Homo sapiens: one gene and its partners. The protein of the gene in region 2 interacts with the protein of the main gene of each other region in a pairwise test. Each region holds a gene or a part of one and is shown on either strand. Other genes may lie near its edges.

The links.
Region 1: the proteins of PRPF18 (region 2) and NACC1 interact in binary tests that used the Homo sapiens proteins (3 or more experiments, as listed by UniProt).
Region 3: the proteins of PRPF18 (region 2) and TXNDC11 interact in binary tests that used the Homo sapiens proteins (3 or more experiments, as listed by UniProt).
Region 4: the proteins of PRPF18 (region 2) and EFHC2 interact in binary tests that used the Homo sapiens proteins (3 or more experiments, as listed by UniProt).

What each region holds. Positions count from the first base shown.
Region 1 is NC_000019.10:13,113,386-13,121,273, forward strand, and holds the start of NACC1 (nucleus accumbens-associated protein 1), read left to right. Parts: upstream 1-4,878; 5' UTR 4,879-5,069; exon of another isoform or gene 5,070-5,340; intron 5,341-7,888. Other genes in the region: TRMT1 (tRNA (guanine(26)-N(2))-dimethyltransferase), read right to left, coding at 1,894-2,081, 2,241-2,383, 2,612-2,667, 2,761-3,014. UniProt on the Homo sapiens protein: Functions as a transcriptional repressor. Seems to function as a transcriptional corepressor in neuronal cells through recruitment of HDAC3 and HDAC4. Contributes to tumor progression, and tumor cell proliferation and survival.
Region 2 is NC_000010.11:13,603,951-13,610,974, forward strand, and holds part of PRPF18 (pre-mRNA-splicing factor 18), read left to right. Parts: intron 1-1,680; coding exon 1,681-1,794; intron 1,795-6,088; coding exon 6,089-6,235; intron 6,236-7,024.
Region 3 is NC_000016.10:11,732,848-11,739,871, reverse strand, and holds part of TXNDC11 (thioredoxin domain-containing protein 11), read left to right. Parts: intron 1-3,638; coding exon 3,639-3,855; intron 3,856-5,792; coding exon 5,793-5,890; intron 5,891-7,024. UniProt on the Homo sapiens protein: May act as a redox regulator involved in DUOX proteins folding. The interaction with DUOX1 and DUOX2 suggest that it belongs to a multiprotein complex constituting the thyroid H(2)O(2) generating system.
Region 4 is NC_000023.11:44,340,649-44,347,505, reverse strand, and holds the start of EFHC2 (EF-hand domain-containing family member C2), read left to right. Parts: upstream 1-3,833; 5' UTR 3,834-3,917; coding exon 3,918-3,959; intron 3,960-6,857. UniProt on the Homo sapiens protein: Microtubule inner protein (MIP) part of the dynein-decorated doublet microtubules (DMTs) in cilia axoneme, which is required for motile cilia beating.

The DNA of each region.
Region 1 (7,888 bases), on a different chromosome or scaffold from region 2:
ACTCCTGACCTCAAGTGATCCATCCACCTCGGCCTCCCAAAGTGCTGAGATTACAAGTGTGAGCCACTGCACTGGCCTTGGTCATTTATTAAACTGCACAATTTTCCTACTTAGGAAAAGCACCATGTGGAACTCAGTCCACACATCTAAAACAACAACAATACTGATATAAGACGTATCTGCCTGACACCATTTCAAGCAGTTTATAGATGTATTAACACATTTTTTTTTTCCTTTCTTTGGAGACAGAGTCTCGCTGTGTCACCCAGGCTGGAGTGCAGTGGTGGGTTCTCGGCGCACTGCAACTTCCACCTCCTGGGTTCAAGCGATTCTCCTGCCTCAGCTTCCCAAGTAGCTGGGATTACAGGCACGTGCCACCATGCCTGGCTAATTTTTATATTTTTAGTAGAGACGAGGTTTTACCATGTTGGCCAGGCTGGTCTCGAGCTCCTGACCTCAAGTGATCCGCCCACCTCGGCCTTCCAAAGTGCTGGGATTACAGGGGTGAGCCACTGCGTCTGACCTCATTTTAAAATTTTTGTAGAGACGGGTTTCACTGTGTTGCCTAGGCTGGTCTTGAAATCCTGGCCTCAAGCGATCCTCCTGCCTTGGCCTCTCAAAATGCTTGATTACAGGCATGAGTCACCATGCCCAGCTAATTACTTTTCATTGTCTGTGATTACTATTTGGATTCTAGTAAGGTCAGAAAAGTAAAAACTTTTTTCTCTGTAAAAGGTCAGAAGGTATTTTAGGCTTTGTGAGTCATATGTGGTCCCTACTGCATAGTCTTCTTTTTTAACCTTTAAAAATGTAAAAAACATTCTTGGGTTGTGGGCCATTGATAAACTAGGCTAGGCCGGGCGCAGTGGCTCACGTCTGTAATCCCAGCACTTTGGAAGGCCGAGGTGGGCAGATCACTTGAGGTCAGGAGTTTGAGACTAGCCTGGCCAACATGGCAAAACCCTGTCTCTACTAAAAATATAAAAATTAGCCTGGCATAGCCAGGTGCAGTGGCTCATGCCTATAATCCCACCACTTTGGGAGGCCGAGGCGGGCAGATCACGAGGTCAGGAAATCGAGACCATCCTGGCCACCATGGTGAAACCCCATCTCTACTATAAATACAGGTGGGTGTGGTAGCAGATGTCTGTAGTCCCAGCTACTCAGTCGGGAGGCTAAGGCAGGAGAATCACTTGAACCTGGGAGGCGGAGGTTGCAGTGAGCCAAGATCACGCTAGTGCACTCTAGCCTGGGCAACAGAGCGAGACTCCGTGTCAAAAAATAAATAAATAAATAAAAATAAAAATTAGCCAGGCGTGGTGGCACGTGCCTGTAATCCCAGCTACTCGGGAGGCTGAGGCAGGGGAATGGCTTGAACCCGGGAGGCGGAGGTTGCAATGAGCTGAGATCGTGCCACTGCACTCCAGCCTGGGCAACAAGGGCGAGACTACATCTCAAAAAACAAACAAACAAGCAAACAAACAAAAAAAGGCTGTGAGCCCCACAGGCTATAGTTTGCCAACTCTTGCGAAGGTCACCAATTTTGCATGTTTTGTTTCCTGATGCATTTCCAGTTCTTGAAAACGGTGCCTGACACATAGCAGACACTGGATATACTATGGCTCATTTGAATGAATAAAAGGAGTGTAAGAAGTTAAAACAGAGACCAGGATGCTACTTATTTCTGGCACAGAGTATGGATCATACCATAATTATCTATTACTCATCACAGCAACCCCTGTAAAACTAATTTTCTCAGTTGACAGACAAGGAAACTGGGGCTCAAAGAGGCTAAGTCACTCACTCAAGGTCACAGAGTGAGAATGTGACAGAGCCAGAATTTGACCCCAGGCAGGCTTGTCCCAGAGCTAGGCTGTGATGCCCAGAACCTACCGGGCATCTGCTTGGCTCGGCTGTACCAGGTGGGCCACGTCATTGAGCTGGACATTCCGGCGTATGAGATCCACAGCCCGGGTGGAGGCATCGTTTGCAACCACAGATCTGAGCCCAGGCACCTCTAGGGCAAATCGAATGGAACGTAGGCCTGAAGCTGCCAGGCCTTCCAGCACATGCAGGCCTTCCTGTTGGAGTAAGCAGAAAACCTCCCTCACATCTCCACCTCCATCCTCTTCTGGGCCCCAAGGAGCCCCCACCACCCACCTCCTATAGCTCTCCCCCTCCAGGAGCCCTCTGTCTCCCGCTAAATTCCAGGGCTGCCAGCTCCTATGCTCAGGCCCCACCTCACAGATCTCCCCCACGGCCGCTGTGCGAGGTTGGTCTCCTGAGGCCAGGTTTTCACTCTCTTTCAGTTCAACCTTTTCCTCCTCTTGCTCTGACAAGTCCACGACCACTTTTTGCGTGTCCTTCTCTCCTGGAACCTTGACTGCAGCCACCCAGAGGCACAAGTCAGAGAATAACAAGGTCCCCTCTGAGAAACCTCCCCTTAATCTCCAAAATATCGTCCCTGAAATCCCTGCGGAAAGGCTGAAGGAGCAGAACCCAGGGCCTGCTATGTGGCTGAAGCCCCTCTGGATTTGGGCGGCAGAAGAGCCCAGGCAGGGAGATAAACTTGTGTGACCCCCGCCCACCAGAAGCCTGGACCTCCACTCACTCTGGATTCCTTTGGCCCCAAGCTGAATGCGAGCAAACTCGGTGATCACAGCACATCTGGTGGGAGACAGAGGACTAGCTCATACCCCGCCCCCGCCATCCACACTGACCCACTAGCCGATGCCAGGCTAACGTCTGACCCCTGCTCACGTCAGGTCCCGATTGAATTCCTGCACCGGGTTATAAAAGACCTCGTTGGCACTGGGAAAGGCGATTTTGGCAGCCCCCTCGGTGACTGTCGTCTCCTGGACTTCACGTGGACGTTCTTCTCCGTAGGGCCCGGTGCCGTTCTCCATCGCTGCTGTATTCGGCAGCCCTGGAGACTGCCACTCGAAAAACCGGGCTCTAGAGAGCACCCGGGCGGAGCGGAAAGTGAGGCTTAGCCACAGAGACGATCCTTGCATGAGACATCCGCTGGCGCCTCCGCCCGCCAAGCCTGGTTCGGGGGGCGGGGGAGGGCACAGAGAGGGTCAGAGAGCCGCATTCCGGGCCCGGGGATGTCCTACATATCTATGAGGTAGGGACTAGGAAAACCTGCGGCCTCGGTAAGCTGATATCCCCTCGTTTTGGGGATGACTGGTCCCTGTGGAGCCGATGCCCTCGTGCAGGCCCGCCCCGAGTCCGAATCCCTCCCCGCGCTGCCTAGCCCGTCCTCACCTGCTCTCGTAGCCACAGAAAACCGAATTAGTCAAGGTGCACGTTTCCCGAATTAGGACCTGGGCGCCGCCATGTTGGCACAGTGGGTGGGCGAATCACATGATAGTGGTTGGCCAGTCAATGAGGAAACGTACGGTGGGCGGCCGGGATCAAAATGAAAGCCATAAAGGAAGCGCGCTGATCGTGCTGTTCCGGGGGTGTTAATCACAGTGGATCCCCTGGGAGAGGACACGTCCCTAGTCCCATTTCACAGATGAGGAAGTTGTGGCTCAGAAAAGGGGCGGTAAGCGGAGAAACCCAACACTTATTGGTCCTCTTCTGTGTTCTGGGTGCTATATACACATTATTTCAGAGCACCCTGCAGGAATGACTCAGGCTCTGGAGTTGGATTTACCGGGTTTGAATCTCAGTCCCATCACATGCTCTGGGCAGGTTACTCCCGCGGCTTCACTTTTCTTACCTATTAAATGAGAATCGTGGTTTCTCAGATAGAGCAAAGATTAAATGACAGATTCCTGGAAAGTGTGCAAAGAACCACTCTAACATTGTAAGCGCTCGGTAAAGTTCTAACCAGTGTATGAAGGCAGGACAGCGAAGTGGTCCCGGCTACCTGGGTTCCAGTCTCAGCTCGCCCTGCGACTTGTTAACTCTGAACTTAAGTTACCGCTTTTGCAAAATGGGCAGAACTTTTTTTTACCATTTGTTACTGGGTTGTAGTGAGAAGTAAACGAGTTAGTGCAGGTAAAATGCTAACAGAACCTAGCATCCGGTAAGCATCATAAAAGTCTTAGGTCTTATTGTCGCTTTTGAGCCTGTGTTTAAATCCTGGCACCTACCATCACTTCCTTGCTGTGTGATGATCTTGACCAGCTTTCTTCATTTCTCTGTGCCTCCTTTTCTTTCTTTCTTTCTTTTTTTTTTTTTTTTGAGACGGAGTCTCGCCCAGGCTGGAGTGCAGTGGCATGATCTCGGCTCACTGCAACCACCGCCTCCCGGGTGCAAGCGATTCTTCTGCCTCAGTCTCCCGAGTAGCTGGGATTACAAGCGCATGCCATCACGCCCGGCTAATTTTTGTATTTTTAGTAGAGACAGAGTTTCACCATATTGGCCAGGCTGGTTTCGAACTCCTGACCTCAGGCGATCCACCCACCTCGGTCTCCCAAAGTGCTGGGATTACAGGCGTGAGACACCGCGCCCAGCTGCCTTTATTTTCTATAGTGTGTCTGTAGCAGTTCTCACTAAAAAATGTTACTGTGTAGTTTAAACGAGCTAATTCCCATAAAGAATGTAACGCAGTGCCTGCCACAATAAACAGCAGTCATTATTGTTTTTGTTTTACAGGAAACTAAAGTTCGGAAAGGTAGAGCGACTTGCCCAAGGTCGCGGGACTAGAAGGTGGCGGGGCCAGGATTCGAACCATCGAGCTGAGCCGACGTACTGGCGAGGATCCCCCAGGGGCATAGAGAGGAGACGGAGCCGGTTAGAAGGGGCGCGCTCGGAGCTCGGCTGGCCTCGCCTGGAGGGCGGGGCCCGAGGGCGGTGCGCGGGCGGGGCCGGGGCCGCTCCTCCCTGGCCTGGCTGCGGCGGCAGCGCGGCTTGCGCTCGCTCGGCGCTCGGCTGGGGCGGCCTGGCCCACAATGAATGGCCGCCGCGGCTGCCGCTGCTGCTGAGGCGGAGGCCGCGGAGGCCGCGGAGGCGGAGGCCGAGGCCCCGGCGCAGCGGGGCGCGCCCCGGGCCCAGGCCCGGCCCCAGCCGCCGCTGCGGAGCCCGCCGGGACCCCCCGGAGCGCGGCCACGGCGCAGGTGAGGCGGCCCGCCTCAGGCCCGGTTCCGGCCTCCTCCAGCCGGGGCGGCCCGAGGGCTGAGTGGGGAGGGCCTGGGTGCTTTCTCGGACCGAGGAGGAGCCGGGCCCGCAGCCTGCACTGTGCCCGGGCAGGCGAGTGTGTGGAGGCCCAGCTACCGCGGGCGGCCTTGAGCGTCCAGCCCGAGCTTCAGGGCTTGGGGGCGGCAGGATCGTACCTGGACCGCTCCCCCGTCTCCCAGCGAGGGAGGGGGCCAGGTCGGGCCGGGGCAGGTACCGGGGATCCGGGGAAGTTGGAGGGTCCGAGGCGGAAAAGTGAGGAGGTTCTCGTGGATGCCGGAGGGGGAGGGGGAGGGGGAGGAGGAGTCGGGCTCCGGCCAGGCCGAGTGGGGGAGGAGAGGAGAGCGGCGCGGCCGGAGGGGGGCGGGGAGGGGCCGGGCCTGCAGGTACCGCCTGGGCGCTGGAGGAGGTGGGTGGGTCAAGTTACAGGCCTGGGGGCGGCTGAGGAGAAGCCCAGGAAGTGGGGCACGGCGGGTGTGGGCGGAGTTACTTCGTGTGGGGGCGGATAGGAGATCCCAGAGATGTTTTCCGGGGGTCACATGAGGTCAGGACTCAGATGTGGGGAGGGGGAGGCTAGATGTGGGGGCGATCAGGTAAGGTGAGGGACTGCTGTAGGAGTTTTGGGAGTCGAGAGAGCAGAGCCTTTTGGGCTAGGCTAGGGGGGATGTGGGGGCAGGTCAGGAAAAGCTGGTGTGACCAGAAGGTATATACTAAGATGCGCCCCCCACCGCCCCCAACTCAAGTGTTAAGGGGTTCCGTCTTTCTCACACCTCATCCCTGAAGCCTCTAGAGTCCTGACCCTACCCCTTGGGCAAGCCTCTGCCAACTGTTCAAAGGCACTGGCCAGTGGGTGTTTGTGTGGGCAGCTGGAGACAGTCTGGAACACCTAGCTTAGGCATCTTGTTTATCACAAGGTGGCCCTTGCCCACCCCCACCTTATATATCTACAGGGAGGCAGCCCAGCAGACGTTACCTGGGTATTTTAGGATCCTGCATTCTTTCTCTACCTTTTGTGGCCAGAAGCTGGTGGTTCAAGCCTAGTGGATGGGACCTCACAGCAACCATCGTATATATTAGTACCATGGCCTCCCAGGCACCAACTCCTTGAGCCTGAGTTCTGTGTGCCATCTCCCTGGGGGTGAAGAATTAGAGGGAATGAGCATGTAAAACTCTGTTGATGGTGGTTTGGAGGCTCCCGACGGGGTGAAGGCAGGGCACAGAGAAGAGTTAAGGGGATCAAATCAGGCACTCACACCCTGGCCCAGGGATCTACCTCTGGGACACTCGTCCTGGGCCAGGCCCTGTGCCGAGCTCGCTGGTCGGATGAGCTCATTGATGGCTCACCACCACCAGTTCAACTTAGGCCTTCTCTGGGGTCCAGACGAGGAAGCTGAGGCTCGGGGTGGTGTGGCTTGTCTCAGATCACATGAGCAGACAGTGGCTGAACTGGGATTGTCTGACCCTCAGCCCAAACCCATAGTCACTCAAGTGGCCTTCCAGGAGGGTGACTGAAGGAGCTCCTCGTTCTGGATTCCCTGGCGGGCGTTCTCCTCCGTCCAGGCCTTCCCTTCTGCTCACCCCGGGGGATGGGTCAATCCCCTTTGGGACAGACTGAGTTTCCATGGTGTCCCCGGGGAATGGAACAGTGGAGGTATCTTTCTCGGAGGCCTGGTCACCCCTTCTTCCCCATTTCCCTCCTGGGAGCCAAGAGGTCAGGAGTCATGGAACTGTGGGCTGACCGTGGGAAGCTGAGGAGGCCTGGCACCACCAGGGCTGGACTTGACTTTGCTTGCCTAGACTGTTTTTGCCCCACTTTGGCCCCCAGTCGGATGGCAGCAGCTTTTGTTCCTTTCTGGGCTAATTGCAAGGCTGTTACCAGGGTGTCCTTGGGACTTTGATTTGGGATCTTCAGCACCTGAGGCAGGAGCCACAAACTGCTGGGTCAAGTGGTGTCAGCCAGTTCTGGGTTTAATGATGGGTTGTCACCCTAATTCTCCCCAGTCTCCCTATAGTTCCCAGGACACCCTCCAACCTGGGCCCTGCCCTTCTTGCCTGTCTGGCTAGCCACTTGGTTCTAGGAGGAGTAGGAACTGGGCCAGCAGTCCCGCAAAGAGACTGAACCATCCTTCCTGGCTGGTTGGGCCAGGATTGCTGCAGGTCTGCTTCAGCACAGACTGGGTCCTCCTGGACCTAAGCTGGGTTGGATACCAGGGATAGGGGATTGGTGGTACCATCCAGTCACTTAGCTGAGACTGTTGGGAGTTGGCCCTGGTGAGTGGGGGACAGGCAGTGCCTCAGGCAGCTCCGGTTTGTGCCTAGAGGTAGAGGAGAAGGCACCAGTAATAACTGCTTTTCGGTGAGAACTTAGCATGCACAGACTCTGTGGGGGCAAGTGCAACAAGTAGGCAGCCCGTTGAGACAGTTTTATTTCACTGCTGGGTGCTGACTCCCCGCTGGGGGCTGGGGAAGCATCCCGGAGTAACAGATCCAGAGCAGCTAGCTCTCAAGCGACCAAACTTTCACAAGCAAAGGATCAAGATAATTTCACATACTTCTGTGTTTACAAAGATGGTGTAGCAAAGTGAAGTCATTATGAGCCATGAGGGGATGGGGAGGTTTCGATGGGTGGCCGGAAGTGTTCCCGGAGAGCTAAGATCTGAATAATAATGTTAGCTAAGGGGTGGGTGGTGCTGGGGCGCAGGGAGGGGTCAGTGTTCTAGGCTCAGGGGACAGCACATTCACAGCTTTTCTTGAGTATGTA
Region 2 (7,024 bases):
GAAAATCAGAATATTCTCTGTAGTTTCATAAAGTGGAACTGGGATAAATGGGTAGAAGTTTGGGGGAAGTAGATTTCAGTTTTGAGAAGCAAAACATCTCTGTCTAAACAATGGGATGGGATGTTTCACGAAGAAATGTGATTCCTGCCATTTGTCAGCCAGGGATCTGACAAGGGTGTTTGTGAGGTCATTTCTGCATTGATTGGAGATAGCACTAGATGACCTCTTAAATTTCTGTTTTAATCTCAAACTTCTGTTAATCCACTGGGAGCCCTCTCAATGGATTTTAGGTGTGATGCTATTTATGCTCCCAGGTAAAGCTCTTGGTGTTTCTCATTATTGCTTTATTTAAAAAATTTGGACTAGTATTTATTACGTTTTCTGTTTCTTTCTTCCTTTTTAAAATGACATACATAGCATGTATATAAAGTGTATGAACCATGTTAGGGCAATATATGTTTGTTACACATATATGAATAATTATAAAATAAATATTCATGTAACCATCACCCAAGTTTGGAAATAGATTTTCAGCATCTTAAAAGCTCTGCATATGCAGATTATAACTCCCTGTTTTCTGAGGGAGAAGTTTTTGGTTTCATGGTGGTATTACAATGCAGACTGTCCATTATGGTAATTATCAGCTGGCTTCAGATTTGATTTTCCTTCTCTCTATAAATGCTGTCATTCCCTCCCATCTTAGTGTTTTTCCTGTGTGTCCTGCCACACAGATTGGTCCTATCGAAGCAGTGAGCTAAACGACCTAAACTTTATGGTTACTTAAGGTGTGATGGTAACACAGTATATCTGTTTATGGAAAATTAAAAGAATAAACAGATTACTTTTTTCATCTACATTTCAAAACAAGTGTTTGATCACCAAAAATATGCTGACATAAGGGATTACTATTGTCTTTCCATTGTTTTTAAAAGAAGACTAAGAACAGTTATAATTATGTAAAATGAGGGCCACAGACATGCCCCTTTTCTTACAAAAAAGAATTTTTTAAAAATCTCACAGTAAAAGAGGTGGTTTATATTAGGGTCTTTCTTTAGACTTGAATTGTAGAGTCATAGGTCAGACCACTTTCTAGGAGCTGTTCAGTGATAAAATTAATAACAGTGACTTTTGAGTCAAAATAGATTTTTAAAGTACTTGATTTTCTCTTTGATTTGGAAACATCTTTGTTTAGCTTAATTGAAATGATCTAAAATATTTGAAGGATTTTATACTTTACACAGAGGCATGTATTTGGATAATTAGCTTTTATTAAACCCAGGCTTGGCTTTTAAGGTACAATATACAAATTGTTTTTGAGATGTTTAGTTTTTTCCTCTCTCAAAAGTTTAATAGCTGGGCACATTAGCTCACGCCTGTAATCCCAGCACTTTGGGAGCCCGAGGCAGGCGGATCACAAGGGCAGGAGACTGAGACCATCCTGGCCAACATGGTGAAACCCCATCTCTACTAAAAATACAAAAGTTAGCTGGGTGTGGTGGCGGGCGCCTGTAGTCCCAGCTACTCGGGAGGCTGAGGCAGGAGAATCGCTTGAACCTGGGAGGCGGAGCTTGCAGTGAGCCGAGATCGCACCACTGCACTCCAGCCTGGGCAACAGAGTGAGACTGTCTCAAAAAAAAAAAAAAAAAAAAAAATTTACTGGGTATCTGTTTCACTTTGTAGGTCATCAGAAGATTGAGAGAAAGAGGAGAACCAATCAGACTATTTGGAGAGACTGATTATGATGCTTTTCAACGTTTAAGGAAAATAGAGATCCTCACACCAGAAGTTAACAAGGTAAGAGGACAGAACAAAGCTAGAAAAATACCACTGTACTGCATTCACTAGAATAGAGTTTGACTAATTGCATTATTGTAGGCAACAATGGAAAAGTAAAGTGAGCAGATTATTGCTGCTGAATGGAAGTTTTCATTAATTTTTTGAAAAGCTCATATCTTAAGTATAACATTTAATGCATTTTGACAAATACATACAAGCATATAACCATTGCCCTTATAAAGAAATAGAACATTTTCGTCACCAAAGAAATTTCCCTGAGAGCATCAGGAAGAATAGCGAATGGATGCTGGGCTCAATAGCTGGGTGATGGGATGATCTGTGAAGTAAACCACCACGACACACGTTTCCCTATGTAACAAACCTGTCATCCTGCAGCTGTATCCCTGAACTTAAAAGTTGAAAAAAAAGAGAAAAAGGAAATTTCCCCAGTACCCCTTCTCAGCCTATCCTCATATTTCTCCTCATCCCTTCCTGGGCAGCCACCATTTGAATTTTGTCATCATGGATTAATTTTGCTTGTTCTTGTATTTCATACAGATGGACTCATAGATTGTGTGTCTGGCTTCTTTCGCTCAGCATATCAGTTTTTAGGTTCATCCATGTTATTGCAGATACCACTGGTTTCCTTTTCATTTTCCAGTGATACTCAGTTGTATGAATATATCAAAATTTGTTTCCAGCTTTGGGCTATTAGGAATAAAACTGCTGGCTGGGCGTGGTGGCACAAGCCTGTAATCCCAGCACTTTGGGAGGCTGAGGCAGGTGGATCACAAGGTGAAGAGATCGAGACCATCCTGGCCAACATGGTGAAACCCCGTCTCTACTAAAAATACAAAAATTAGCTGGGCGTAGTGGCGTGTGCCTGTATTCCCAGCTACTTGGGAGGCTGAGGCAAGAGAATCACTTGAATCCGGGAGGTGGAGGTTGCAGTGAGCTGAGATTGTGCCACTGCACTCCAGCCTGGCGACAGAGTGAGACTCCTTCTCAAAAAAAAAAAAAAAAAAAAAAAAACAGGGATAAAACTGCTATGACCATTCTTATGCAGATCTTTTTTTGGAACTATGTTATTTTTCTTGGGTAAATAAATAGGTCTCTTGGGGAGATACCTAGAAGTAGAATTGCTGGATAATAAGAGTAGATGTATGCTTAACTTCATAAGAAATGCCAGTCATTTCCAAACCCCAGCATGTGGTATTGTTAGTCTTTTTAATTTTAACCATTCTCTTTTGTGTCTGGTAGTAGCTCTTTGCGGCTTTAATCACATTACCTGATGACTAAAGATGAGGAGCATCTTTTCATAAAGTTGTGTTCATTTGTGTAGTGTCTGTTAAAGTCTTTCTTTCCTTATTTATTTATTTTTTTGACACAGAGTCTCACTCCGTCACCTACGCTGGAATGCGGTGGCATAATCATGGCTCATGGCAGCTGCAACCTCCTGGGCTTAAGCAGTCCTCCCACCTCAGCCTCTCAAGTAGCTGGGATTACAGGCGCTTTTTGTTCATTTTAAAAATAAACTTGTCTTTTTGTAAATGGATTATAGGAATTCTTTGTATATTCTGGATAGAAGTTCTTTGTCAGATATACGAATATTTTTTGTGACTATTTTCTTGTAGTTTAGGGCTTACCTGTTCTCTTAATTGAATCTTTTGCTGAACAGAAGTTTGTGTGTGTGTACACACACGCTTTTTGAGACAGGGTCTCACTCTCACCCAGGCTGGAGTTCAGCATGATCATGGCTAACTGCAACCTCTAGCTCCTGGGCTTAAGCGATCTCCCACCTCAGCCTTCCAAGTAGCTGAGACCACAGGTGTGTGCCACCATGCCTGGCTGATTTTTTAATTTTTGTAGAGATGAGGCCTCCTCATGTTGCCCAGGCTGATCTTGAACTCCTCTACTCAAGGGATCCTCCCGCCTTGGCCTCCCGAAGTGCCCGGGCCAGAAGTTTTATATTTTAATGAAGTCCAATTTATTGTTTTTTCCTTTTATGGTCATTGCTTTTTGTGTCCTGCTTAAGAAATCTTTGCCTATCCCAAGATTTCAAATATATATTCTTAATTTTCTTCTAGAAGCTTAATATTATAGTTTTTGCTTTACATTTAAGGCTCTGATCTTGTTTTATGGCTTAGCATATGGTTTATTCCATGGGCTCTTGAAAAGAGTATTGTTTTGCTTTCATGGTACAGTTCTACAAATGTCAGTGATGATAGTGTTGTTCAGATCTTCTTTGGCCTTGCTAACTTTTTATCTACTTGCTTTCTCAATTATTGAGAGACAGGTGTGGTTACCTATGACTATGTAACAGACTACTCCAAAACTTACTAGTGTTTGTTTATTTATTATAAAGGATTTATCATTACCAAATCTGTTTTTGGTGATTAACAAGCCACCCTGAAACTTGATAGCTTAAGATAATTTGTTATTGTCTTAATAATTACCAGTTCTGTGGTTTTATTGGGCTGGATTGAGCAGTATCTTGCTTGGGGTCTTTATTGTGATTGCAGTCAGATGAAGGCTGCGGCCGAAATCATGTGAGGCTGCCTCTGGACTGGTCTTCTAAGCTGATATCTTGCCCCTTTCCTGGCGTCTCAGTTGGAATGGCAGGAACAGCTGGGGCTGGCCAGGCCCGCTCCCCGACCTGCTCTGTCTGCTAGCCTGGGCTGTCTGACTGCTTTCTTTGTTGCCAAACCACTTTCCTGCTTTACTTCCCAGCATTGTCATTCCAGCCCCACAACACTAGCAGTTGCTTTCAGTCCTCTGTGTCTGTAATGATCATTTTTCCTTTGCTTGCTGTGTTTCTGCCTTGTATGCTCTGGTTGAAATCTTGTTTTTATACTTTCACATGCAATTCAGTGACCACATCTTCTCTCGGAATCTATTTTTGGTCCCAGTCAGAATTAATTGCTTCCTTCTCCATGTGCCTATGAGTAAACCTTTGTTAGTGTACTTACTGTTTTTCGCTATTATTAGAGTTATGTGCATATTTATCTCTTCCTGGTGGGCAAAGGCTGTTTTACCTTTGTATGCCAAGTCCTGTGCCGTGCATCTAGAGGTTTTGAGGACAAAGCACAGGAGCACAAGGTCTGGATTCCATTCCTGGATTATAGTAATCAATTATTTGGCCGTTGGCAAGTCTTTTACTCTATTTGAACCTTAGAATCTTCATTGGTAAAACAGAGGCAGTGATATTTGGCTCACTGGGATGCACTGAGAATTCGATGAGGTGACCTCTGGGAATGCCTGGCGTCATACTTTTTACACAGCAGGTGATCAGTCAGTGTTTGAGAAATTATAAGTGTTTTGAGTTGAATGTTTCTCTTCTGTGTTTATGAAGGGACAGGAGACAATGATCAGATGCTTTTTGTGTGAGAACGTTAGGAGTTAACATTGGTTGAATGTGCACCGTGCTCCAGTAACTGTTCAAAGCTCATCGTCCATTTCTTAGCTTACTTGCGTGACTTGATGTTTGCGAGGTTCTGGAACAGCTGCATCACATAGTAACTGTTCACTGAAATAAAAAATAGCATCCTTATTACAGCCCTACGTAGTAGATGGTGCCATTACTCCTATTCTGTAGGTGAGTCTACTGAGGCACACAGGGGTTAAGCAAGCTTTCAAAGAGCTATTTAATAGTATGTGGCAAGGATTTGAACCCAGATAGCTTTTACTCTCAACCATTACCCTATAGCCGCCTCACAGCCATGTTTCCTTGGCTCTTAAACCTTGCAGCTGATTCTCATTCATTTTTAGGAAGATGAGGCTTCCATTTTCATTAAAGGGTCATGAACCATATGTGCATAAAATGCGAATTTGCTGGTTTGCTAGAAACATAGTTGAGAACCTGGGATATAGATGAGGCACCAATTTTATTACACTGATGTTTCTGAATGTTTTGGGAGTTCACAGTAGTTGAGGTTAGACATTGTAAATGAGCTGGGCAAACGGGTTGGGGACTCTAATGGAGACCTGCCACTGTCACTAAGCCTCATTAGAAAATTACAGCATTGATGAAGATTCTTACTTGGATTTGTCACTCACGTGTATTTTATTTTTCTGACCAGCAGACTGGCCATTGTTTGTGCATTGTTTTAATTTAAATAGGTCCGTAAGAATTAACTTTAAATGGACAGTAGTGATAGTTGTGTGATAAATTGATGTGATTTGAGTCCCTACTTTTGCTGAACTCTTCTTGTGGGGGAAAAAATATTTGCAGTTATTAATGAAAAATCAAAGGTGAAAAAACAGGTGTTCTTCCTTTCATAACAGGTGTTCTTCCTTTTTTTGCTTTTCTTAGGGATTGAGGAATGATTTGAAAGCAGCCTTGGATAAGATTGATCAGCAGTACCTCAATGAAATCGTCGGCGGTCAGGAGCCTGGAGAGGAAGACACACAGAATGATCTGAAAGTTCATGAGGAAAACACCACAATTGAAGAGTTAGAGGTAATCTCTACACCAAGCCCAGCACATCCCTGGCACCCTTCTTTTTCCTCTGGAGCAGATGACTGAGTCGGGCAGATTGTTGAGGGCAGAGCACACTGTTGTCCTTGGTCTTTTGTTTATTTACTCCTCGCTTTTATTTATTTACTCCCCTTTTTCTCATCCTCCACTCACATTCCCCTACTTCCTGCCTTCAAAAGGAACCCATTCTAATATGTTGGATATGCATCTTTCTGTTTGTTGGTGCTCTTGTGACCTGCAGTGTTTTGTGAGCATGTATTTTTGATTTACATAAATGATGTTATGCTGTGAAATTCTTTATTCCGTGTTTTACTTTTCTTTTTTTCAGTTAGCACTATGTTTTTAAGAGCTATCCTTGATGCTCTGTGTACACTGAATCCTTTGCTTTTAATTGCTACATAGGATTCCATGTGTTACGCCATTCACTGCATTTGACTTTTTGTTCTCCGGTAATGATGGACAGCTAGATTGTTCCCAGCTCTCTCCTACCACAAACAGCTTCCTGATGAACAGTCTTGTGCATAACCACGATGGCCTAGCAAAGTGGGATTGTGGGATTTATATATGTATATTTAACTTGTCTAAGTACTGCCAAGTTACTCTCTGGAATGGCTGTCCTAGTCTACACCCAGCAGTGTGAGGGTCCCCTGTCTTTCCAGCCCTGCCAACGCTTGGCAATATCTTGCTGTCTGATTTTTGCTATAGTGCTGCTTTTGGAGTGTTAGTGTATAATCTTAATTAAAAAGCAATTTTGTATCATGTAAGTAGCAT
Region 3 (7,024 bases), on a different chromosome or scaffold from region 2:
AGGCTTGAAATAAATGTCTGCTCTTTTCAATGTCTGTGGCTTGGCTGAATTCAAACCAGCTAATATGGAAAAGGTTGATTTGAGGTTGAGCCACAGTGAATAATCGTGCGTTTCTGGGCATCTAATCTTTACTTACCTGTGTCTCTTCATCCTGCTCACCTTTCTTTTACCTTGATTTAGAGGGAAAAAAAATTGTCTGTGTGTAGATACATATGTATGTATACATGTATTTATTTTGCTTTATTCCATTTTGTAATTTCAAAGCTGCCTCGAATGGTCTTTGCAAGGAAGTGATGTAGGGTGTGAATTTCATAGGAAAATTGGGGTTTCAACAGGCCTTTTTTCTATGTTGCCCCGGCTGGAGTGCAGTGGCTATTCACAGGTGCAATTATGGCATGCTGCAGCCTCAAACTGCTGGGCTCAAGTAATTCTCCTGCCTTAGCCTCCTGAGTATAGTAGCTGGGACTATAGGCACATGCTACTGGCTCAGCAACAACAGGCCTTCTTATTTGCAACCAACTCGAGTTTTTTGTACCCGAGACATACCCCTCATAGCTGCAGGAAATCTTTGCTCTATGTATAGTTTCTCTAAAGCGTGAAGCAGATTGATGAGTTAAATAGAAACTCACCAGTGTTTCTGATGGAGTAGAGGCGAGCGTTTCTTCTCCCTGGCCAATATTTGATTTTTGATTGGCCTTGTACTTTATCTGGCTCATTTAGGAATGCTTCTGAATATGCAGAGCAAAATTACTGAGTTGCTCTTTATCCTTTCGTTGACTGTCAGACCTACATTTTTCCTCAGATTGCATTATTTGATGCTTACATTGCATTTTTTTTTTCTTTTGAGATGGAGTTTTGCTCTTTTTTCCCAGGCTGGAGTGCAATGGCGTGATCTTGGCTCACTGCAAACTCCGCCTCCCGTGTTCAAGCGATTCTCCTGCCTCAGCCTCCCAAGTGGCTGGGATTACAGGTGTGCACCACCATGCCCAGCTAATTTTGTATTTTTAGTAGAAATGGGGTTTCCCGGTGTTGGTCAGGCTGGTCTTAAACTCCTGACCTCATGTGATCCACCCGCCTCTGTCTCCCAAAGTGCTGGGATTACAGGCGTGAGCCACGACTCTTGGCCATGTGCAGTTTGAATGGTAGAAAAGTAATTTCTCCAAAGAGCAGAATTTTGGATCTCTTGAAAACGTGTCTTTTTTTTTTTTTTCCTGTAGTGCCCTCCCCACCTCTTAGGTGGCTATCTTCTTGTCATTCAGGTCTCAGAGCTTAAATTATAGCACCTCCCAAGCCACCACTCCATCAGAGGAGCTACCATGCCCTTCTGTACATCACCTTGTTAAATTTTTCACATAGTGAGCATTTAGTATATTTTTATTGTTTACACATTTGATGTTTTTCCTGTCTTCCTCCCCTAGAAAGTGGTCTCCTCGACAACACGCAGTGCTAGCTGCCGCAGCCTTAGTGCTTGTGCCCAAAGCACAGTCACAGCTGCTCAGTAAAGAATTTTTGAATAATTGTGTAAGTGATTTTTTCAGGTTATGAAGGCATTCTGCATAGACTGAAAGCTCTCTGATTGAAGGTTAAAATATTAGTTTGAGTGAATAAATAGGTGACTTGCTCCGTTGGATACTTCTGCCTGTTCTGGAATTTCATATAAATGCAGTCATAGTGCATGTACTCTTTAGCACTTTTTTCACTCAGCATAATCATTTTGAGACTCATCCAAGTTATAGTACATATGAATAGGTTTTGCTTTTCGTTTTTATTGTGGAGTAACATTTAAGTAAATGGGTAAGAATATACCCCAGTTTATCATTTTACCTCATGAGTCATGCCAGATTTCTTATGCTCACTATTTACATAGTTTTTCTTTTCCCATCCTTATGCCTTTATCCTGTGTCTTTATATTTAAGATATATCTCGTTTAGATAGTGCATAATTGGGTCTTGCTTTATCCTGTCTGGCAGTCTGCTCCTCCTAATTAGGTTGCTTCCTTTTTTTTTTTTTTTTTTTTTTTGAGAGACGTAGTCTCGCTCTGTTGCCGAGGCTGAGTGCAATGGCATGATCTTGGCTCACTGCAACCTACACAATTCTCCTGCCTCAGCCTCCCGAGTAGCTGAGACTACAGGTATGTGCCACCACGCCCGGCTAATTTTTTGTATTTTTTTCAGTAGAGATGGGGTTTCACCATGTTAGCTAGGATGGTCTTGATCTCCTGACCTCGTGGTCTGCCTGCCTCGGCTTCCCACAGTGCTGGAATTACAGGCATGAGCCACCGCGCCCGGCCTCTCCTTTTATATTTAACGTAATTGTTGAGGTAGTTGGGTTTAAGTCTACCTTCGTGCTCCTTGTTTTCCATTTGTACCGTCTGGCTTTTGTTCTTTTCTTGTTCCTTTACTTACTTTCTTTCTTTTTTTTTTTTTTAGATGGAGTTTTGTTCTAGTCACCTAGGCTGGAGTGCAATGGTGCAATCTCGGCTCACTGCAACCTCCGCCTCCCGGGTTCAAGCGATTCTTGTGTCTCAGCTTCCCGAGAAGCTGGGATTACAGGCGCCCATCACCACGCCCAGCTACTTTTTCATTTTCAGTAGAGACAGGGTTTCACCATGTTGGCCAGGCTGGTCTTGAACTCCTGACCTCAGGAGATTTGCCTGCCTCGGCCTCCCAAAGTGCTGGAATTACAGGCTGAGTCACCACGCCTGGTCTCCTTTACTTTCTTTGGGGTTAATCTCATCGCGTTTTAGGTTTCCATGTTTATGTTCTCTATTTATCTCGTTTAGATAGTGCATAATTGGGTCTCATTTGTTTCTTAGCAAAGCTGCCCTAATGGTTTGTGGTATGTGAGTGTAGATGCATGGACAGCTCAGGGTGTTTACTAGGGCCCTTCTACTTGGTGGGATGCAGCCTGGGCCTAGATCTTTAGGTCTTGATGGGGAAAGTTACTTCTGACCACTTGTTTGTTCAGCGTTCTTTTCTTTTTCCTCCTGATCTGTTTCTTGTGGGAAGCTCAAGTGTTCAAAAAGCCCATTTTCCAGTTAAATAGGCTGTTGCTTTGTTACTTATCTTCATTAGTCTTAGGATTATGATATATATCTGGAGGAATGTATATTATTGTTTAATTGTTACTGTTACCTGAATGCCCTGGATAAGTACAAGCCAACTCCAGCTAATAAGCTTAATGTTTTCTCAAAGTTGAGTTGATTGTAAGCATCTCCCGTGGAAATCTTGTTAATGGTAGTTTACATGCTCCCTCACCGTAATTCTGAGCTTGCATGCTGGTGGCTCTAAAGCCCTGGAGATAAGTGGCTTTTGTGGAGAGCCAGGCTGCAGAAAAAGGAGGATGAAGTCTTTGGGATGTGGGGAGCAGGAATATGGATTATTCAGAGACATCCTTCTCTGCTCTCCACTGCCCTTCCAGCCTACACCTAGGGGACAGAATCTCAGAGAATTGTTTCCAACGTATTATTCATGTCTTGCATTTGCTCAGCCAGATGTTGCCTTTCTAGGGCAGTGATTTTGGGACTCCATTTTCTTATTCAAAAGAGGATTTTCCTTTTAAGCTTCATTCTACTTCCACAGAGCTATTTTTAGAAGAAGATAAACTAAGCAATCTTTTCTGTGTTTGCTCTTTTTTAGTCGAGCAAAAGATGTGATAATACCAGCAAAGCCACCTGTCAGCTTTTTCTCCTTGAGGTCTCCAGTCCTTGACCTCTTCCAGGGGCAGCTGGATTATGCAGAGTACGTTCGACGGGATTCAGAGGTGGTACTGCTCTTCTTCTATGCCCCTTGGTGTGGACAGTCCATCGCTGCCAGGGCAGAAATTGAGCAAGCAGCAAGTCGGCTTTCAGATCAGGTAATGCTCACATTCAGCTTAAGAATCAAATGACTGTCAGTCCTATATGTAGGGCAGGATGTCCCCACAGAGACACCTTGCCCAACGGGCAGACTTTGCCAAGGTGAACTCCAGGAGTCGTTTCTAAGTTACAGAGCTTTCTATAAAGCAACAGAAAGGATTTCCAATTGTGGCGATTGTACTCCAAGGCAAGTGTGGGAGCAGATTCTGAATCTCATAACACAAGCCAATGCTTATCCTGGGGTGCCATACTGTTTGGTTTCAGCATTGAAAAAGGTAGAGGGACTGAAAATCCTAGTTCTTGCATATCCATTTGATACTTGCTAGTTAGGTATTTTAGGTAAGAAAATGTATGTATGATATGACTGCATTGTAACAAGGCCGACCTTTTTAATATATGGACCAGAACTATATTCAGCAGATAAGGAATGCCACCTTTGGGCTAGGTAAGAAAGATATATAGGCAAATAAGTCACCTGTTATGGCAGTGGTTTTCAGCCCAGTGGACCCCAGTTGTGCTTTAGAAAATAAGTATTTTATGATGTCCCTTTTTCTTCCTAAAAAGGAATTCATAGATGATAAAGTTTTCCTATACATGTAATTTCAAAATAATCTAATGCACGGATTGTAACATAGAGGTGAGGGGGGAAGAAAGTAATTTGTAACTAAATGATATATATTTTAGTATGTAAGTGCACAGTCAGAACAGGTCCATATACCTTTATGTAGAATCACTGAATGGGATAGTTACAAACGTAGACTGATAAAGGTGATATGTTGGTGACTTACCTGCCACATGGACATTGCTCTTAGTAATTGATTATCCTAAATGGTGAACAGTCTTGGTAAAATCCTGAACTATGCAAAGCCCTTTCTGCTCTCAGTTTACATAGAAGTTGCATTCCTGAAAAATTCAGTGAACACAAAAAGCATGCTTTAGATTCACATGTAAAATGGAGCTAGGTACTGGGCTTTGATAATAACAGGTTTTCCCCAACATCAGTGTTTGGCAGGCGTTTTGAACTCCTCTGGAATGCTATGGACGACTCTTCCGTGTGCAAAGCAGGTTTGAGTGTAGCAGGACATCTACCAACACCCCTGCCCTACGTATGCACTGTAGCTTCCCCCAGTCATTGTAGCAAGCCAAAAGCATCCCACAGATTTCTAAGACTCTCCTGCTCAGAACCACTGATGTGAAGTAACGTGTGTAGGCAGCTGAGTTCCAGAAGTTCATTTGGAACTGTCATTTGGTTTTTCTTAGAAACTGTGGAGCCTTCCAAATTTAGAGAACAAAGTTCACGTTGCCCATGTTGGGCACAAGAGGGATATCTATTGTGTTTTATTAATAAGTGTGAATTAGCTACCTTACTGTCAGCCTAAGCAGTATGTCCTTCTGAGTGATGGCATTAGTATAATAATAATGATATTCTGGTGTGCCAGGCCCCATGCCAATTCTCAACCACTTTGCAAGGCGATGCTGTCAGCCCTGTTTTTCTGAAGCAGGACTGCAGGCATAAGGGGTGAAGCAGTTTGTTTACCATCACGTAGTGGTGGGGGTTGTAGTGCAATCCAGGGACTGCTGCTTTTTTTAAAAAAAAAATTTCAGCTCCTTCCAAATTGAGAGCTTACTATTCCATGTACTCAGTAGGGAAAAAAGTGGGTTTATTTTTGGAAACACACAGAAATCTTTTGAACTGTATTGCATGGTAAGATTGGTAAACACGGTCCAAGTCCTGCCTGGACATCATAGATAAGAGTATGTCTTTCTTTTTTGTTTTAGTGATAAATTATGACCTTTGAAAACTCAAAACAGTTTTTTTCATAGTTTCTGTTTCAGTGAGAGAGGAATCATTCTATTTTTAAATTTCATCTTTTAAATCTTGGTAACTTTTCAGTTGTTATTCATAGTCATTTGAAAACCTTTTTTGGCTCTGCAGGTGTTGTTTGTGGCAATTAACTGTTGGTGGAACCAGGGGAAATGCAGAAAACAGAAACACTTCTTTTATTTTCCTGTAATATATCTGTATCATCGGAGGTAAGAACTTTTTAAATAGCGTCTCTCATTCCAGTTTAGTTTGCCAGTTTATAAATGAATTTTGCATTTTTTCTATATTAAAGTATTAGATATTCACTATAGAAAATTCAGATAATACAGATAAGCAAAAATTAAAAAAGAAAGATCTGGATAATCCACCCCCCTTTTTAAAGCTAAACATGGGATCAGGCAGTAATACTATTTCCTAAACTGCTTTTCTCACTTTTTTGAGCATCTTTTCATGTCATTACACATTTTACAGCATTGTTTTTAAAAGTACGAATTACTCCAATGCATTTCAGATATCGTAAGAGTGTTTTGTAAAAATACACAAAATTTCTTATCGTTTCATCTGGAGGCATAGCAGAGTCCAGAGTGTATCTTACCATCTATTCTATTGGGAAGAAAATTACTACAAGTACACAGTCCCATGTCCACAATTCTTTTTTTTTTTTGAGACGGAGTCTCACTCTGTTGCCCAGGCTGGAGTGCAGTGGCGCGATCTCCGCTCACTGCAAGCTCGGCCTCCCGGATTCACGCCATTCTCCTGCCTCAGCCTCCCAAGTAGTTGGGACTACAGGCACCCACCTCCCTGCCCAGCTAATTTTTTTTGTATTTTTAGTAGAGACAGGGTTTTACCGCCCATGTCCACAATTCTAAAGTCACAAAGAGGGCTGAAAAACGGAAAGAGTTTTATTTTATCTTATTTTATTTTATTTTATTTTGAGACAGAGTTTAGCTTTTGTTGCCCAGGCTGGAGTGCAGTGGTGCAATCTCGGCTCACTGCAGCCTCCGCCTCAGGGTTCAAGCCGTTCTCCTGCCTCAGCCTCCCGAGTAGCTGGGATTACAGGTGCCTGCCACCACGCCCGGCTAATTTTTGTATTCTTAGTAGAGACGGGGTTTTACCATGTTGCCAGGCTGGTCTCGACCTAGGCTGTACTAGAGTACAGCCCAGACCCTGCTGTGAATGATAAGTAATGTCTAAAAATCTGACTCAAAGAGTTTTGGAGATAGGAGATAGGACTTTGGACTTTGTTCAGGGTGATTGGCTTGAAGTTTGTTGAAAGTAAAATGGGTAAAGGAGATTTGATCAGTAGAGAGCTTTCCTTTTTCCTTCTAAAGTTCTTGGGCCAT
Region 4 (6,857 bases), on a different chromosome or scaffold from region 2:
CCTGTAATCCCAGCACTTTGGGAGGCCAAGGCAGGAAGATTGCTTGGAGCCAGTAGTTTGAGACCAGCCTGAACAACATAGTGAGACCCTTGTCTCAACAAAGAAAAAAAAATTAGCCGGGCATGGTGGTGTGTGCCTGTATTCCCAACTACTAGGGAGGCTGAGGTGGGAGGATCGCTTGAGCCCAAGAGGTAGAAACTGCAGTGAGCCGTGATTGCACCTGGGTGACACAGCAAGTCCCTGTCTGCAAAAAAAAAAAAAAAAAAAGGACATTATTGGTACAATTGCAAAATTTGAATATGTATTTTAGATTAGAAAATAGTATTATAAGGCCGAGATGGGATTGCTTGAGGTCAGGAGTTCGAGGCCAGGCTGGGCAACATAATGAGACCCCATGTCTACAAAAAATAAAACAAATTAAAATAGCTGGGCATGGTGGCACATGCCTGTAGTCCCAACGACTTGGGAGGCTGAGGTGGGAGGATCACTTGAGCTCAGGAGGTGGAGGCTGCAGTGAGTCATGATCATGCCACTGCATTCTAGCCTGGGCAACATTGTGAGACCTTGTCTCAGAAAAAAGAAAACAGTATTGTATTAATATTAAATTTCTGATTTTGATTATTGCACTTCAGTTATATAAGAGACTGTCCTTATTCTTAGGAAATACACACTGAAGTATTTAGGAGTCAAGGGGCATGATATCTGCAACTTAACTCTAAAATGTAAAAGATATATATGGGGAGAATGACAAAATTAATGTGGTAAAATATAAAACAATTGGGGAATCTGAGGAAAGGATAAATGAGAGTTATTTGGACTGTTCTTGCAACTTTTTACTAGCTTGAAATTATTTCAATTTAAAAAGCAACAGGGAATTTTAAAAATGTTTGTAAGAACATGTAGGAGAATAACTGTTCTTTTGGAGTAGTATAAGATTTTTGAATTCACATACAAAACACCAAACAGGCCAGGTGCAGTGGCTCATGCCTGCAATCCCAGCACTTTGGGAGGCCAAGGTGGGTGGATCACTTGAGGCCAGGAGTTCGAGACCAGCCTGGCCAACAAGGTGAAACCCCGTCTCTACTAAAAATACAAAAATTAGCCAGGTGTGGTGGTGCATGCCTGTAATCCCAGCTACTCAGGAGGCTGAGGCAGGAGAATCACTTGAATCCAGGAGGCGGAGGTTGCAGTGAGCCTAGATCACATCATTGTACTCCAGTCTAGGTGAGAGAGTGAGATTCCATCTCAAAAAATAAAAAGTAGAATAAATCAAAAAACCCACCAACCATAACTGAAAGAATGATATATTTGAGTAAAGTAACAAATTTATGTACAATAAAGAACTCTATATAAGTGGAGTTAAAAGACAAACGACAATGAGAAAATATTTGCTATGCCTCGGATTAGTATCCAGAATATCTCTATATCTATCTATCTATCTAAAAAAAAAAAACTACAAATGACCGAAGAGAAAAATCTGCAAAGGATATGAATAGCTGAGTCACAGGAGAAAGTAACAACCATGGGAAAACATGACCAACTGCTTAGGGAGAATTAGGGAGAAACAAATTAAAATAACAATAGTATACCATTCACACTTATTCAGATGATTATCCAAAATTATATAATTTGGTAATACCTATTGTTGAAAGGATGAACGGGGAAGGGGACTTTCTTAATTGGTTTATCTGTCTGTAGATCATCTAGCAAAATCTAGTAAAGATGAAGCCATGCACTCAGATATGTACGTAATTCCATCTTTCAGTATGTGCCCTAGATCATTGCCAAAGGAACAGGCAGAGTCGCTCACTGCAGCATTGTTGGTAACTAGTGGAAAATTGGAAACAATCTAATTGTCATCAACAGATGAGAGCAGATAGTTAAACAATTTGTGGTATAATCATACAATGCGTTTAAAATTAATGAACACTACATGTGTCAATGTGTAGAAATCTCAATAACAGAATTTTATTATTATTATTTTCAAGACAGAGTCTTGCTCTGTTGCCCAGGCTGGAGTGCAGTGGAGCAATCTCAGCTCACTGCAACCTCAGCCTCCCCGGTTCAAACGATTCTCCTGCCTCAGCCTCCCAGTAGCATATTAATATTCTACTAATATTTTTAGTAGAAACGGGGTTTCACTATGTTGGCCAGGCTGGTCTCGACCTCCTGACCTCTTGATCCGCCTGCCTCGGCCTCCCAAAGTGCTGGGATTACAGGCATGAGCCACCGCGCCTGGCCTCAATAACAGAATCAGGCAAAAAAAGCAAGTAGCAGAAATTTAGAGTGTAAAATTTATAAACACAGAAGCAATAATGGATATTGTTGATGAATAAAAAAGGAGATACAGTCCCTGCCCTGGAGGTATTTGGGGGCATTTAAAGAAATGTCAAGTAAACAGGTAATTACAATGTAGTAGGATGAAAGCCACGATCAGAATAGACACCAAATACAGATGGAGGCGGCAGGAAGAAGGTGAAAGAATATATTGAAGAAATGGCAATACCTTCTATGCCCCACTCCCACGCTGGCCTCAAGTCCTGAAAGACAAGAAGGGGTTACTTATGTGAAAGATAGGAAGGAAGGGTGTTTCTAGACGATAGTGTTATTTGCAAAAGCCCCAAGAGGAGAAACCGCAGAGCCTGATTTAGAAACTGCCAGTGGTTTCTCAGAGCTGGAGTAGATGGAGGAGGGGGCAAAGAAAGGGATGGAGGGCATTGGTAGGTGCCCTCTGACAAAAGCTCCTCAGACCAGGCTATAAGGAGTTTCACCACCTTCTGAAGGCGGCGGGAAGGCTAGATTATTGAAGCAGAAGAGTAACAGCTGCACCATGAATTATAAAAACGACGGCTCTGGAGGCAAGATCAGTTAGTTTTTTGTGTGTGTTTGTTTTTCTTTTTAAAGAAGAAAACCAGGCAAGAAACAATGGGATCGCAGCTGAAATAGACGAGGTGGTGACTGAGAGAGAGCATCGAGTCCAACCTTTAGGGCTTCAGGGAGGGATTAGACGTAGGTGTCGGGAGAGGAGGTTCCTGGCCCGGCTATCTTGGGGTGAACGATGGAGTGACAGGGGTTGCGATTTGTGACACCTGACTCCGCCCCGGCCACCCCTGATTGGGCCTTACAAACGTTTAGTTCAAATACAAAAATGGGCCGGACACGGTGGCTCATACCTGTAATCCCAGCACTTTGGGAGGCAGAGGCGGGAGGGCTGCTTGAGCCCAGGAGTTCGAGATCGGCCTGGGCAACATAGTGAGACCTTGTCTTAAAACAACAAACAAACAAACAAACAACAAATATAAAAATATCCAGAAGAAAAACTGAAGGCGGTGGTTACCATTACAACGCGTTTTCGTCAGGGTATATGTGGCTTTAGATTCATCTTGAACGTTTTAATTACAAAATAAAAGCTGATGTCTATGCAACATAGGAAAATATCGACTTGTGTAACATCTCAGTGAGCACACGGGCGTCATATTACTTTCTGTACTTTGCTGTGTGTTTGAACCACATAGCAAAAAACTGTTGGCGACAAGAATTGGAAAAGCAAGAAAGTACAAGAAAGGCTTTGAGTTCTATAAGGGGGTTAAACCAGAAAGCGGCGGGGGCAGGGAACAGTCAATCTTTGTGTGTGCACACTGCGTGTGCAGAGAGAAGACTCCTCAGGAGACCAGGACCTGGCTGAGTGTGTGCGGGGATGAAGCGGGTGGAGGGGAACTGGGGCTGGGGAGGAGGTACGCGCCGCGGAGGTGTCCCCCGCCCCCCACGATCCTTCTCGCCAACCCCCCGCCCCTCCTCCCTCCGTGACGCCGCTTCCCGTCTCCAGGCAACGTGGGGGCCAAACAACACGGCCGGGAGGCGCCGCTGCCTGCCGGGCCCTCTCTTCTGGGACCCTGGATTTTCGGACACTGAGCGCCATGGCCCTGCCTCTGCTGCCGGGCAACAGCTTCAACCGCAACGTGAGTAGGAAGGGCGTCCGAGGTCACAGCTCCCGGCTGGAGTCTGGGGTCCAGGCAGGGTCGTGGCGTGGCCACCTCCGCAGACTCTCCTGGAGGCCCCATGCTGCTGCCCTGGGTTGGTGGCAACTTGGACCAAACTTTATAGGCTGCTTCTCCCATCTCTCCAGCTGCATCTGAATGTTTTTCCTAATTTAGAAATATATAGAGAGAGTCCTTATAGGTGGCAGGACCCTCAAAGGTAACAAATAATAGTGACGATAACCATTGGGGGTTTAATGTGTGCCAGGCGCTGTGCTTTAATCACCTTATGCAGCATCCAGTGTCCCAACAGCCCTTTGAATTAGGTAGTTTTTATTCCCAGTTACTATTGAGGAAACTGAGGCACAGAACCACACAGTCTCAGTGGTGAAGCTGGGTTTCTTTCAAGCAACCTTGTCTCCACAGCTCAGGAGCCTAATCATTATCCCCAGTATCCTGTGTGAAAAAAGATACCGTTTCAATTATCAAATTGAAGAAATCTGGCACTTATCAAGAGGGGTAGGTGGCAGATAAGAGTTCTATCAGCCTGTAAAGTTTACTCCCAAACTTTATAGAGACAGGCACCCAAACTTGGAGGGATTTTTTTTTTCTCTATTTATAATTGGGAGGGGTTCATTTCTTTTTTTTTTTTTGAGACGGAGTCTCGCTCTGTCGCCCAGGCTGGAGTGCAGTGACCCGATCTCGGCTCACTGCAACCTCCACCTCCCAGGTTCAAGCGATTCTCCTGCCTCAGCCTCCCGAGTAGCTGGGATTACAGGCGCCCGCCACCACACCGGCTAATTTTTGTATTTTTAGTAAAGATGGGGTTTCACCATGTTGGCCAGGCTGGCCTCGGACTCCTGACCTCAAGTGATCTGCCCGCCTCGGTCTCCCAAAGTGCTGGGATTACAGGCTGAGCCACTGCGCCTGTCCTGGAGGGGTTCATTTCAAAAGAAGATGAACGTACAGAACAAAGCAACACAACACAAAAAACCCTGAGCATGAAAGAACTTTTGCCAATAAATAGCACCTCATTTAAACGACAGCAGGAAAATGATTCAGGCTTTTGTTTATACTGGTTACTACCCTTCACTTGGGTCAGCCATCTGTGTCTGCAGGAGAAGCTAATTCCCAATTAGATGGGAGGGAATTAGATGGAGCCACTCAAGGCAATTGTGTAAACCTTTGATAACTTTAGAAAGCAGGCAGCAGATTGAAGTATTTGGCTTTATGGTTTCCAAACACTGTCTGTATCTAAGTTGTTGGCCCTGAAGTACAAGTTTTTTCTTTGTAGCTTCACGCCATTGAATTCTGACCCCTACACGTCTGGTCAGTCCAACTTTGAACACTGATTTGTGCATTTCTTGGTTGATGGGCAGAGGCTGGCCTTCCAGCATAGCATTGCCCTTTGGTAAGTTTAAGCCAGTCACGCAAACAAGAAAGGCCCCTGAGAGACGGGACATGAAAACAGATTCCAGAAGTAAAGAAGCATGCTGTGTAAAAGTAATTTTAATAAAAAATGAAAGTAAAGCCTACAGCTTTTTGCCCAGCAACACTCTGATTACCAGTGCCTGCCTCCTGCAGAAGTATCATAGCTCTCACGTGCAGTGATTAAGGATGGGAAGGAAAAACAGTGGATGGATGAAATATTAATAAATCTGCAAGGTTCTGCGTATATTTTTGCTTTTTAAAAAACTTTAAGATCATGAAGTACAACACATATACAGAAAGATGCACAATGGATGATCACAAAATGAATATCAAGAAATTAAATATGGGGGCTGGGCGCAGTGGCTCACGCCTGTAATCCCAGCACTTTGGGAAGCAGAGATGGGAGGATCCCTTGAGCCCAGGAGTTCGAGACCAGCCTGGGCAATATAGTAAGACCTCATCTCTACAAAAGATTGAAAAAATTAGCCAAGCGTGGTGGCACATGCCTGTAGTCCCAGCTACTCAGGAGGCTGAGGTGGGAGAATCATTTGAGCCTGGGAGGTCGAGGCTGCAGTGAGCCATGATTGCATTACTGCACTCCAGCCTGGGCAACAGAGCCAGACCCTGTCTCAAAAAAATAAATAAAATAAAATATGACCTGTTCTCCAAAAATACCACCCTTGACTGGGGTTGCCAGATTTAGCGAATAAAAATACATATCTCAAATACTGCATGGAACCTGTTTATGGGAAAGGATTATTTATTGTTTACCAAATTTAACTGAGAATCTTGTATTTTATGTGACAACTCTACCTATGAACCTTTCTGTTCATTACCCCATCTCTACTCTCCAGATATAACCACTGTTCTGGCTCCTATCACTATAATTAGGTTTTGCTTGCCTTTGAACCTTTTATCAATGGAAATGTTTGGTGTTTATTCTTTTGTGACTGGCTTTTTTAGCTCAACAGTATGTTCGTTAGATTTGTCCATGTGGCTGTCTATAGAGGTAGTTTGTACATTTTTATTACTCTGTAGTATTGCATTGTATGTTTTTCACATCATTTATATATACATTTTACTCTTGATAAATATTTGGCTTGTTTGGGGTTGTTAAGAATAGTTTTACTGTGACTATTTTTGTTCATGTTTTTTGGTAGGATTGCTAGATCATACAGTATTCGTATGTTCAGCTGTAGTAGATGCTGTCAAAGTGATTATACTACTTAAATTCCCAACAGCATTTTATGTTCCTGTTGCTCCACATTCTTTCTAACACTTGGTATTGTTAGTCTTTTAAATTTTAGATATTTTGGTTGGTGGGTATAGCAACTCTTTGTAGTTATAATCTGTACTTCCTGATTCCTAATGAAATTGAGCATGTTTTACACGTTTGTTGGTCATTTGTATGACCATTTATTGGTCACTGCTTTTTTTTTTAGACGGAGT